Linked DNA regions of Homo sapiens: region 1 is linked to region 2. Evidence: fine-mapped expression QTL. A gene starts in region 2. The other region holds a variant in brackets. All regions are shown on one strand. Distances are from middle to middle.

Region 1 (5,382 bases), 790 kb after region 2:
TCAAAATAAACATTCCATTGAAGGAATTAGAAAAGTCATCTTGACAAATGAAGGACAATGGGTATTTTAATAGTGACCATTATCATTGCCTATATACCATTTCCTCAGGTACTATTCTTGAATTGTTGGTTGGACTTCAGTTCCATTGATGGCCTGAGCCATATTTACTTCATGTCGCTATGGCATTGATCACACCCTCAAAGGAGGTATGCAAACTGTGATCTTGTTTCTGTGACAAAACCAGGTTGGGGGAATGATGGTTAATACAACAGTCATCTACTTCTTGCATAAGTCTTTCAGAAAACAATTATTGAGCACCTACTCTTTCCCAAAGGAGGCATTTTTCTAGATGCTGGCAAATCAACAATAAATAGAATACTACCTCTGGCCGGGTGTGGTGGCTCAAGCCTGTAATCCCAGCATTTTGGAGGGCTGAGGAAGGCAGATCACTTGAGGTCAGAAGTTCAAGACCAGCCTGGCCAACATGGTAAAACCCCGTCTCTACTAAAAACACAAAAATTAGCTAGGCATGGTGGTACATGCCTGTAGTCCCAGCTACTCAGGGCTGAGGCAGGAGAATTGCTTGAACCTGGGAGGCAGAGGTTGCAGTGAGCTGAGGACAGAGCAAGACTCCATCTCAAGCATTTGTTAAATAGAACTATGCTTAGTCCACTATTTGCCCATCTGACAGAGACTGTAGAAGTCAGAAAAGCTTCCCAGAGAAGAGAGTATCAGTAGAGCATTTGCAAGAATGGATTGAAGTTAGGCAAGATGCAGAACAGAGGTCCCATTTGATTAACTAATGTCTGCAAGGGCATGAGTTGAGATGGTGAGACACTCCTAGGAGACATCTATCATATCAGTGTGGCTGTGGCATGGAGTTTGGGAGTGGAGTGAGTAATGAGGAAGAAGAGGGGTCATGTCATAAACACACTTGCATCTCATGCTGTCAGGACTTAAGCTTTATCCTTTTCTTGGGGGTGGGGGAATTGTATTTCACAATCATAAATGGTAGGTACAATTATAGAACTCATTGAAGGTTTACTCAGCCCTCATTTTTTTTCTTTACCCACGTTGGTCACAGCATAACACTTCCCTCAAAACCACACTTGATGTGCTGGTACTTCAATTTTCCTTTTGCCAAGAGTTGACATTATGCTAACTTTACATTTTACAAATCAACTCACCTACTAGGTAGGAGAGAATAACTTTCTGCGTTTTGTGGTACATGTTTCCACTTACTGCTTGCCCCGAGGATGAGGGATTCTGTATGTGGCAGGAGTGAAAACAACAGTTTTTTTAAAAAATTAAGCATTAAATTACACTGGACGTGTTTAATTTTGTTTTCAGTAATGGGCTTTGATGCTTTGGTGAAGACTCATTGTGTTATACTTGAAATAGAAACATGTCATGTGAGTGAACCTGTGAGGCGGGGAGAACAATAAAATGGCAAAATGCACCCGGACTAGGTGGGGCTTATAGTGCTAGATATTTTAGGCTCAATTTTATTGTTCATGGCACTGTGCAAAAATAAATAGACATTTAAAAGAAGTAGGATATATGTTGGTATGAAAGCAGAGGGAAATCAATTAGCAGCTGTAACTTAAAGCTGAGGAAATGGATAGGATTGACTTTAAAGATCTGAGGTACTAATTTGTCTCCTTAAATGCAAATTTCTAAGTTTATCCATGGCCGTCCAATATACAGATATCCCAATGAACCCAGATTATTTTATAATAGGGAATAAAGGAAATAGCAATCGTTACAGAGAGGTGAGCCCTTATTTTGGTGTTTCATAAATGCCTGAATCCAGATCATATATTGGGGCCATGATCCAAGAGATGTCAGATTGTGTATATTTTACAGTTTTTCAAAATAAGGAATTATCAATGTGGCTAATCCGGTCTGTGAGAGGTCAGGATGTAACATCAGATGAAGTTGAACATCGGTCATCAGGTAGAGTTGAAGACACATGAAACGTACATGAAAAAAAACATGAAAAAATAGGCAAGAAGCAAAGGAACAGCCATGGACGTAGAGTGAAGATGATTTGGTTTAATGGGTCACAAGAAAAGCTTCAAACCCTGTGAGGTCGCCAGAGGACTATTCATATGTGGCACTAACTGTATAGCACAAAGCTTGCATATAGCTAACCAAGCCACACAAGACTGTAACCTCTTGGGTCTTTCTAGATGAGAAGTCTTGTTTATATAGCAATTAGAAAATCCTTTATGACTTTTAGCACCAAGCTAAGGGAATTCTTTCAGGTTTAGTGACTAGAAATCATGGAAGAAATGTCCACTTCCCCACAAGGGTGTTGCACAAGGGACACATTCAACTATCACATAATTCTAAGTACTTTCGAATCTAGTGGTTTAAAACTAGAAATTAATGCTTTAAAAACATAGGCGTGTAAAGCATTCGTGAAGAGGATGTTGTAACGAAATATGACTATCTAGAACGACATTAAACTGATTTCCACTCACCCTGGGAATTCATTAAAGAGAAAATCTTCATTC[T/A]GTGACTTCGCACTGTCTGGTTTATATCTGGGCTTATGTCCAACAAAACTACTAAAAAGTAAGGCCTGTGAACCACTAGTAGATATTGGTGGGGTGACAGAAATTAATGGAATTGTGACATGCAACATGTTGAAAAAATAAAAAGCAATCTCAAAATTGGAAAAAAATAGAATAGAAACAACGGGTATGAATTAAACTGCCTGTGCTTTTAGTAGAAGATAATGAAAGAAAGTGGCACGTCCACCTTGGCTTACAGCTAGGACATTCCCAATTCAAGGCCTTTAAATCAACAGCTTCAAGGACCAAGCAAAGGCATCATTTTGAAAGAATTTTTAGGGCATTTATATACTAGCTGTCAACTGCCTTGGTGGCAGGGTGATAAATGCTTCTGAATTTGAGTTAAGCAGACTAAACTCTATGAAACTGTGCTTGCACAACTGATAAACTGTCTAATGGTCAATTCTCCAAAATTCCCACTGGGTAAGACAGAGAGGTGTGTCAGGGGAAAAGCTAGCATGGAGGTGGGAGATAGAGACACAAGTATGCAAAAGCCACCCCCCACCGTGTCTTCCCAGTGGTCCACGTGATGCCCACCCCTGAATGCACAATGGCACAGCTGCTCCCACCCACCACAGAGAATCCAGCTGCAGGTCTCTCCTCCTCTCTGCCTCAGAGCCGCTCAACATCCTTGGATTAATAATCATGGTCATTTTCAGGGCTTTGGTTTCCTTCCTTAGCAATAAACATGTAGATGTTTTAATCTAAGATATGGTAAAGCTAAATGACACACTAGTGTTCAACTTCCTTAGAGAAGAACTTGGGGCACAGTCTAGAAGTCATGAGGGGCATATTTCATAGGATGTCTATTTAGACCCTGTAGATCCGATATGTGGATAAAGCCTAGAGACAGAGAAGAAAGTGTTACCAAACTTTGCTTGACTTGATTCTAGACAAATGCTTCCTAATAATAGTAATGATAAAATAACAATAATAATTATTATAACCATCCCTACTACCCCAACTATTACACATGCTGACAAGGAGGGCCATGTACCAAGCCCTTGGCTAAGTACTTCACATACCTTATCCCAAGTGGCCCAAGTCTAAGCTTGATCATCTCTTGAGATCCTTTCTACCTTAAGTCATTAAATTGAATTCTCATTTTCCTAGGAAGCTTATGAGGAGACAAGCATCATTTTGTTACTTGACAGTACCTGGTTGCTTACCTGGACTTATGTCCAGCAGAGCTGCAAAATAGGCTAATCCATTGCCCGCAAGTTTCCATTTTGAAACCATTGCATCAAAGTCATATCTCCCTCCTTCCTTCGACTGCATCACCCCACTTCTATTTAGACTGCAGGGCCTTTCAGACCCCCTATTCTAACACACAGATAACCTTGATTAGAAGAGATTCATGTTTATAATTGAACAACATGAACTTTCTAGTTAAATTGTCTTAAGATCATCTAATTGGAAAAGGAAAGAAAAGGGAACTAATTTATAGCCACTAATACTTAATGCTTTATATAGACTAAGAGAAATACTTTATCTCTATTTTTCATCCTCAGTTTACAAGGGAGAAATCTGAGGCTTTGAGAATTTAAGTCACATCTTGAAGGTCAAATAATGAGTAAGTGGCAAAGTCAGGATTTAAGCTTTTCCATTTCCTCTTTCTGCCTCAGAAATAACATTTAAAAGAGAATCCATAGCCTGCATCCAACTGTGGCAAGAAAAAAGTAAAGCATACTGCAAAAAAAAAAAAAAAAAAAAAAAAAAAAAAAAAAAAAAAAAAGAAGAAACAAACACAGCAAAAGCCCTTTCCCTTTGGCATTTAAACATTGCTTGTGTGAAAACATGAGGATGAAAATTGTACACATGCTTACATGAGCAGAAATATTCCTGGGAGCCTTGAGATTTATTTCAGACATATTTCAAATAGATATATGGAAAGCAAGAAAGGAGCAGAGAAAAAAAAGGCATCTGATGAATAAATGAGTGGGAGAAATCATGAGGAAAAGAGATGCAGTGTAATCATGGCCCTGATTTCTTTCAGGATAAACGGGCTTGCTGGTGCTGTCTATACTATAGGGGATACATCATATGTACTGAGATTACTATTTCATCAAAGATGATATTGGATCTGATCTTTCAGTTTGGCCAGTTGGCTACAGAAACAACATTGGAATTTTCCAAACAAAATTTTAGCTCAAGGGAATATCTAAAGTACAGATTCCTTAGTCGACTTGACAGAGAGATTGGGCTAGCTTGCCTTTGGTGCCCAGCAACTAACTGCTTAGGGATAGTAACTCTTATCTGTCGCTCACTATCTCCCTCAACCCACATGATGCCTTCCTGTTGGAAACATTCCATGAAATTAGACAAACTTATCTGAGTGACTTAGCCAGGAAGCCAGCTTAAGAAACCAAATCAGAAAAGCCGTTGTCATTTTGCTTCCTTTCTTCCTCATGATTTGTGGGTAGGAGATGGGAACAGAAAGGAAATTGTCTCCAGTATCCATGATCCCTAGAGACATCCATCTGTCAGATATGGGGCTTGCTATTTCAAAGGGAGTATCTATCTGCAGAGACCCTCAAAAGGATCAAGCTTGACCTCAACCTGTCAACCTGACAACTGTTTCAATAGGAAGCCCAGATACCTTCACAAAACAAGCCTAAATGAACTCCTTGACCTGCCATGAGTCATAGTTTTATTAGATCTCTGTAGTATCATTAGATCTCTATAGACTAAACACACAGAATCCCCTTCCCTCATTCTCCCTTCCCACATGCTCTTTGGCAAAAGGCTGCCACTCCTGTGGTCTGGATCCTCAGGCTCTCTCCTCCTTCTACCGACTTTTCTCCTT
Region 2 (5,382 bases):
TGCAATTCCAGGCAGCTTAACCGAGACACTCTTCAAAATGGAGAAAATTTTGCTCCAATTCTAATATCAGGGAGTGTGACCACAAAACCTTTAGTTCTCTCCTCTGAGGTCATTTTTATGACTTCTCACTACTTTTTATCTTTGAACTATTTTTTAGGTCTATGTTGGGAAAATGGTTTTGTTTCTTTCTTCCCCCATCTCTTTTCTTTATCCTCCAGTTGACAACCATGAAATGATCTCCCCTTAAGACAATCACATGAGACAGTTCTGTCTTCCCTTCACCCTGGGCCTTAGAGGATTAGAGAGCACATGCCCTAAAAAGCGTCACCCTCCCATAGAAATCCATAGAGAACCTCTATTTCTACCCTCCTGGCAGCAGATGTAGAGAAATTGGGGTAGGGGTAGACGGCGTCAACCCCACCCCGCAAGCTTCATAAATGTGAGCGCTTATAGTCAGTTCCCAAGATGGGAGGCCTTCATATTTAAAGCCATTAAGTGGAAATTTCTTGAGGGCAGGACTACATGAATTTGCCCTTGAATTGAGGGTTTGGCCAGGCCTGACCCCTGACTCGGGACTTCAGAACACTTAGGCCAAGCAGGATCTGGAAATGCAGTTTCTTCAGTCACCCCAATGTGCTTGGTACCTGCCTAATGAATGCTTGTGATGCTCACAGAATCTCCCTAAACTCCGCACGGGGGTGTTGGCTGGCAGCCCACTCCCCCAGTCACTGAGACTCTTCTATAATACCTGACCGTGCTCTCAGTCAGAATCTCCACTGAGCTCAGCGCTCCAATTTCATGCAATAAAGCGAGCTTTCAACACAGTAAAGTTGTGCTTTGACCTTGCTGGGCACTCGTTTATTGGGTCAAATATTGTCAGAGTTGTTGAACACGCAGGCAATGTAATCAATATAGTCGAAATTGGAGATTTCCAAACTTTAATCCTCTGGTCATTTTGTTAACCAGCTCTAAATCCCCCGAGGATCTGGTTTAAATGCAGTTTCGGACACAGTAGTTCTGGGGAGAGGCGTAACAAGCTTCCAGGTGACGCCCTAGCACCATACTTTGAGAAGTCAGCATTGAAGGGTGTTGATATGGGGAGGAGGAGAAGCTAGTCGCTAAGACTCTGCTCACACATCCCTAGCAGAAAACATAGAAAGTGATCATGGATTCTACATTGGTCTGAAGGAAACTTGTCCCGGGCATCTGCTGTCCCTGAGGCTGAGGACATGGCTCTCAGACCTCCATTACTTTGAAGTGTTTGCTGCAGCAAGAGGCAGGATGGTGCAATGGGTAGTGCTTGTGTTCTGGTGCCAGCTTGCCTGTTTGAGGCCTGGCATGCAATTCTAAGCTCTGTGTTCTTGTGGCTTAACATTTCAGTGCCTTAGTTTTCTTATTTGTAAAACAGGGATAGGGTAGTCATAATAGTACCCACCTCTATTAGGTTACTGTAAAAATTAAAAGATTACGTAAGGGACGTGGTCCATAAAAAATGTCCAGAATACTTATTTTCCTTTTCAGCCAGAGCTCCTGTTTCTAAGCCTGGGACCTCAGGGGGCCCTGGGTTTCTATGCCCTGAACTGCCACAGTTGTGCAAGCACTCTTGGGTCTCCTGTTACCCGGGAGCCGGCAACAGACCAAAATAAAGAGGTGGGGTGGGGTAGCGGGGCGGGCTGAGCGAGCCTCTAGAGGGAGTCTGACCAGGTCAGCTGGGAATGCCTGTCAGCCATCCAGGGTGGCTTCTCCTTTGCTCTGCTCCTGCATGGGCCTGGAGGTGGGTGAGTGACTCATGCTGGTGCCCTCCCCACCCCTGCACCCAAATGCTCAGCCCTCCCCACAGCAGGGGCTCACCTAATCCCCACAGTGGGAGTCGGTGGGTATTCACGCCTGTGCCGAGGTCTAGGGTTGCACCGCGCTGACTTCACACTCAGCAGCATGTGCAGCTGAGGCCTCCGGGCAGTCGTCTCCTGCGAGGCGGGCAGCGAGGTCAGCTTGGCAGCCGCTGCCTCTCCAGCCTGGATCTGGCCGCAGGCAGCGGTTCCCTAGGACCCGAGAAAAGGATGGCCGAACAAGAAGCTAGTGGGCTACAGGTCCTGCTGCACACGCTTCAGGTAGGAAAGGGTAGAGTGGGTGCAGAACCCGGCGGGCTGGGTGTTTGCCTGGGCTGGCCTGCCTGGGAGCTATGCACACAGTCCCCTCTGGCAGTCACTGGCCCAGTTTGTTAACAGCAAGAGAACAGGAGTCGGCTCTCACCTTGAAGCTGACCTAAGTGATGCTATGGAATTCAAATATTAAACACGACGATGTTGATGATTGTTCTGCTTAAATTATTGATCCTCGTGGGATCAGAGGCTCTGGGTAAAAGATCCGAGTTTTCTAGAAATGGGAAAGGTGGAGAAAAAGCCTGTTTGGCAAATGAAGGGGACCTGTTGAGGCTCCTCCTGAATAAGGCTGGAGACCTGCTGAGAGCATGCAGAGCTGTCTGGGAGGACAGGGTAGGTGAGGAGAGGACCCTTCTGGGTATCTCCTGCTAAATGGCTATCTTACTGGGCTCCCACATTGTAGTTACATCAGAATGGCCTGGGATGCCGACTATCAGTGCATTTTCCCAGGCAGGATCTGACTAGAAGGTGTTTGAATCATGTAGGGCAGTAGCCTGGGAAACTGCCTTCTCCCTGGGGGATGCTATTCATTCCTAATTTTGAGAATTCTTGTTCTACAGCAGTGGTTTGCAAACTTGTCTGCACATTAGAATCACCTGGAGAGGGTCAAAAAATACTCATGCTTGGGACCCACCCCCAAAGACATGGATTTAACTGATCTAGGGATCAATCCGAGCGTTAGAGTTTGAAAACTCCCCCGGGGTCTCCATGTAGATTTAAGGCTGAGAACCACTACTCTCTATGCTTGTAGTTAGCTGGATTCAGAGGATGCCAGTGTTCAAAAAGGCCCAAGGGGTCTTCTACCCCAGGAGTTTAAGCTGGAAGTTCCTGGAAGGGGTCACAAGATGATGGGCTTGTGGGGGCGGGGGGGGGTCCATGACCCCATTCCCCTGTTTAGAATATAAACATTTTGTACGTATTTTCCTTTTTCCCTGTTGGGAAAAATGTTCTTAATTTTCCTCTGATTGTTTTTGTTTTTATTTTGTTGAGACAGCGTCTCACTCTGTCGCCCAGGCTGGAGTGCAATGGTGTGATCTCGACTCACTACAACTTTTGCCTCCCAGGTTCAAGCAATTCTCCTGCCTCTGCCTCCCAAGTAGGTGGGATTATAGGCTCCTGCCACCATGCCTGGCTAATTTTTTGTATTTTTAGTAGAGATGGGGTTTCACCATGTCGGCCAGACTGGTCTCAAACTCCTGACCTCAGGTAATCCACCTCGGCCTCCCAAAATGCTGGGATTACAGGCGTGAGCCACTGTACCTGGCCATTTTTCTCTGATTCTTAAGAAGATTTGTATTCCTGAAAGTTTAAGAACCAATAAGTGCAACCTTCAGGTGTGCAGATAAGGAAACGGAATCTCAGAAGTGAAATAGGCTCCTTGATGTCAAATGGCTACATAGTAGGAGAACTGGGCCTTCAATATTCAGTTGACTTGGCGTCCTTTGACTCATTCTATCTGATTCATGCAAGGTGAGAATGTATCTGACCAGGGGTACTGGAGGCAGGAGTGGACCTCAAAAGAAATTTGCAAAATAAATCCAAGGATTTATTTGTATCTGGCTAGATTTATTTGATTTAATAACCAGGTACAATAAGCTGACATTCTGAGACCTCTTCTAATTTCTGAATAGTTGCATGGAGATCTTGATTAACTGATTCAAACAACTGAAAATATCTCATGGACAGAATTTTCCTTGCACTAGCTGTCTAGGAAAGAGGGAAAGTAATAAGTTGGTAATAGGGGTTCAGTAAAAATGAATGTCCTGTAGTCGGCCTCAAAGTCACTTCAGGTTGAACTCAATTGCCTGCATTCCCACCAGTGAGAATTGATAATTGATGTTTAGCATGATCACCCCGGGGCACTGCTAGATTCCCAATTATCAAAGAAAGATTTAATTATGTTCACTAGACTCTACTTAGTTCCCAATTAAGCAGAACATTATGATAACAGGAGCACGCTTCCTGTTTACTCCTCAGTTGATCAGAGTTTGGTTTAGAATTGACCTGGGTTCCTGGCCTGGCCTGCACCAAGTGCTTCCCTAAGCCCTGTTTCTGTCTCTACGGTAGAAGTCAGAACTCTGAAACGCTTTTTAAAAAAGAGAACCCAGAACATATATTCTGTGGAATAATCTTTCATGATGGATTTGATGTCCTGTCCCCATCCCTGCTCCCCATGGACTTAAACTAGGTGAGCTCACATTGTTTCTGAGAAAGGGTTAGCTGAACCTGTCTCAGTTGGGGATCCCAAAGATCTTACCAATTCAAACCAGTCTGTCTCTTCTTGTGCACAAGGTGACAGACAGAAGGCTTTGAATTGCTTCTCAAACCTTTGGGGAAAGCAGTGAATAAGTTTGAACCAAATGTGAGCTTAGGTCTCAGTTCCCATGTCTTTTAGGAGTGCCCCAAAAGGTTGCCAAGGGAAGGAAGAAAGAGATTGGAGGGACAGAAAAGGCAAACACAAGCATAACAGAATATCCCTGTGCTATGTTTGTGGATGTCCTCCTACTTAAGCATATCACCATTTCTGACTCTTTAGGGGCATAAAATAAACCGGGCCACTAAGAAACATCAGTTTTCTGTGTGTTAACTTTTTCCTGCACACATGAGGAAGGGGTAAGTGGTTTTCCCTACCACAACTTGAAAACAGCTTCTTTATCTCTGTCCCGAAGGTCTGAGAATCAGATTTCTACCCAGACATGTTCCAACTTCCTGGCCTTTACAGCGTGGGTGTGAGGCAGAAAATCAGACTGACTGATGTGGGTCTGGGTGAAGCAGGAGGCAGGCAGCCCACAGCACAGGTGCGAGAGGCAGAAAGGACTGGATCCAGCCCCTTGTCTGGCACTTACTCGGCTGTTTATCCTTATGAAAGTCCCTCGACCTCTCTGAGCCTCCATTTATGTAATCTGTAAAACAAGGGCCTTAAAAATACGTTCCTTAGCATTTCTGTGAGGATTAAGAGAATACATCTGAAAAGCGCTTGTAAACTCTAAATGGCTGTTTGAATGACTGTGGTTTTATGATTTCCCTCGTTGAGTATGCAGTGGAGAGGCTGGGAACACTTGCCTACACTTTTTGTCAACCTGCCTGGCTTTTTTCCTGGGTGGACTCCAATATACTTGGAAAAAAAAAAGAGGTGTCTCATTTGTCCTGCTCTCGTCTCTCCATGTGGTTTGAGCTAATGGAGAAGATGGGGAACTGCCAGCGTTGCAGGATGTGGGCT

Direction of the effects. Alleles are on the strand shown, and positions count from the first base shown. SD is a standard deviation of normalised expression in the study named.
As copies of T replace A in region 1, the expression in skeletal muscle of the gene that starts at base 1,959 in region 2 goes up (large effect, 0.82 SD a copy in FUSION).

What was found. PIP is the estimated chance that this variant, and not a neighbour inherited with it, causes the effect.
Region 1: its variant is the best candidate, but not a certain one, in a credible set for the expression of AGBL1 in skeletal muscle (FUSION, PIP 0.65).

What each region holds. Positions count from the first base shown.
Region 1 is chr15:86,866,186-86,871,567 of GRCh38, forward strand. All of the region lies in intron 22 of AGBL1 (AGBL carboxypeptidase 1), which reads left to right. Among named protein-coding and RNA genes, the nearest start is that of AGBL1-AS1, 550 kb to the left of the region's middle. The variant T/A (reference allele first, on the strand shown) is at 2,520.
Region 2 is chr15:86,077,913-86,083,294 of GRCh38, forward strand. It overlaps AGBL1 (AGBL carboxypeptidase 1), which reads left to right and starts at 1,959. Exons shown (of 23, transcript NM_001386094.1): 1 at 1,959-2,111. The coding sequence starts at 2,061.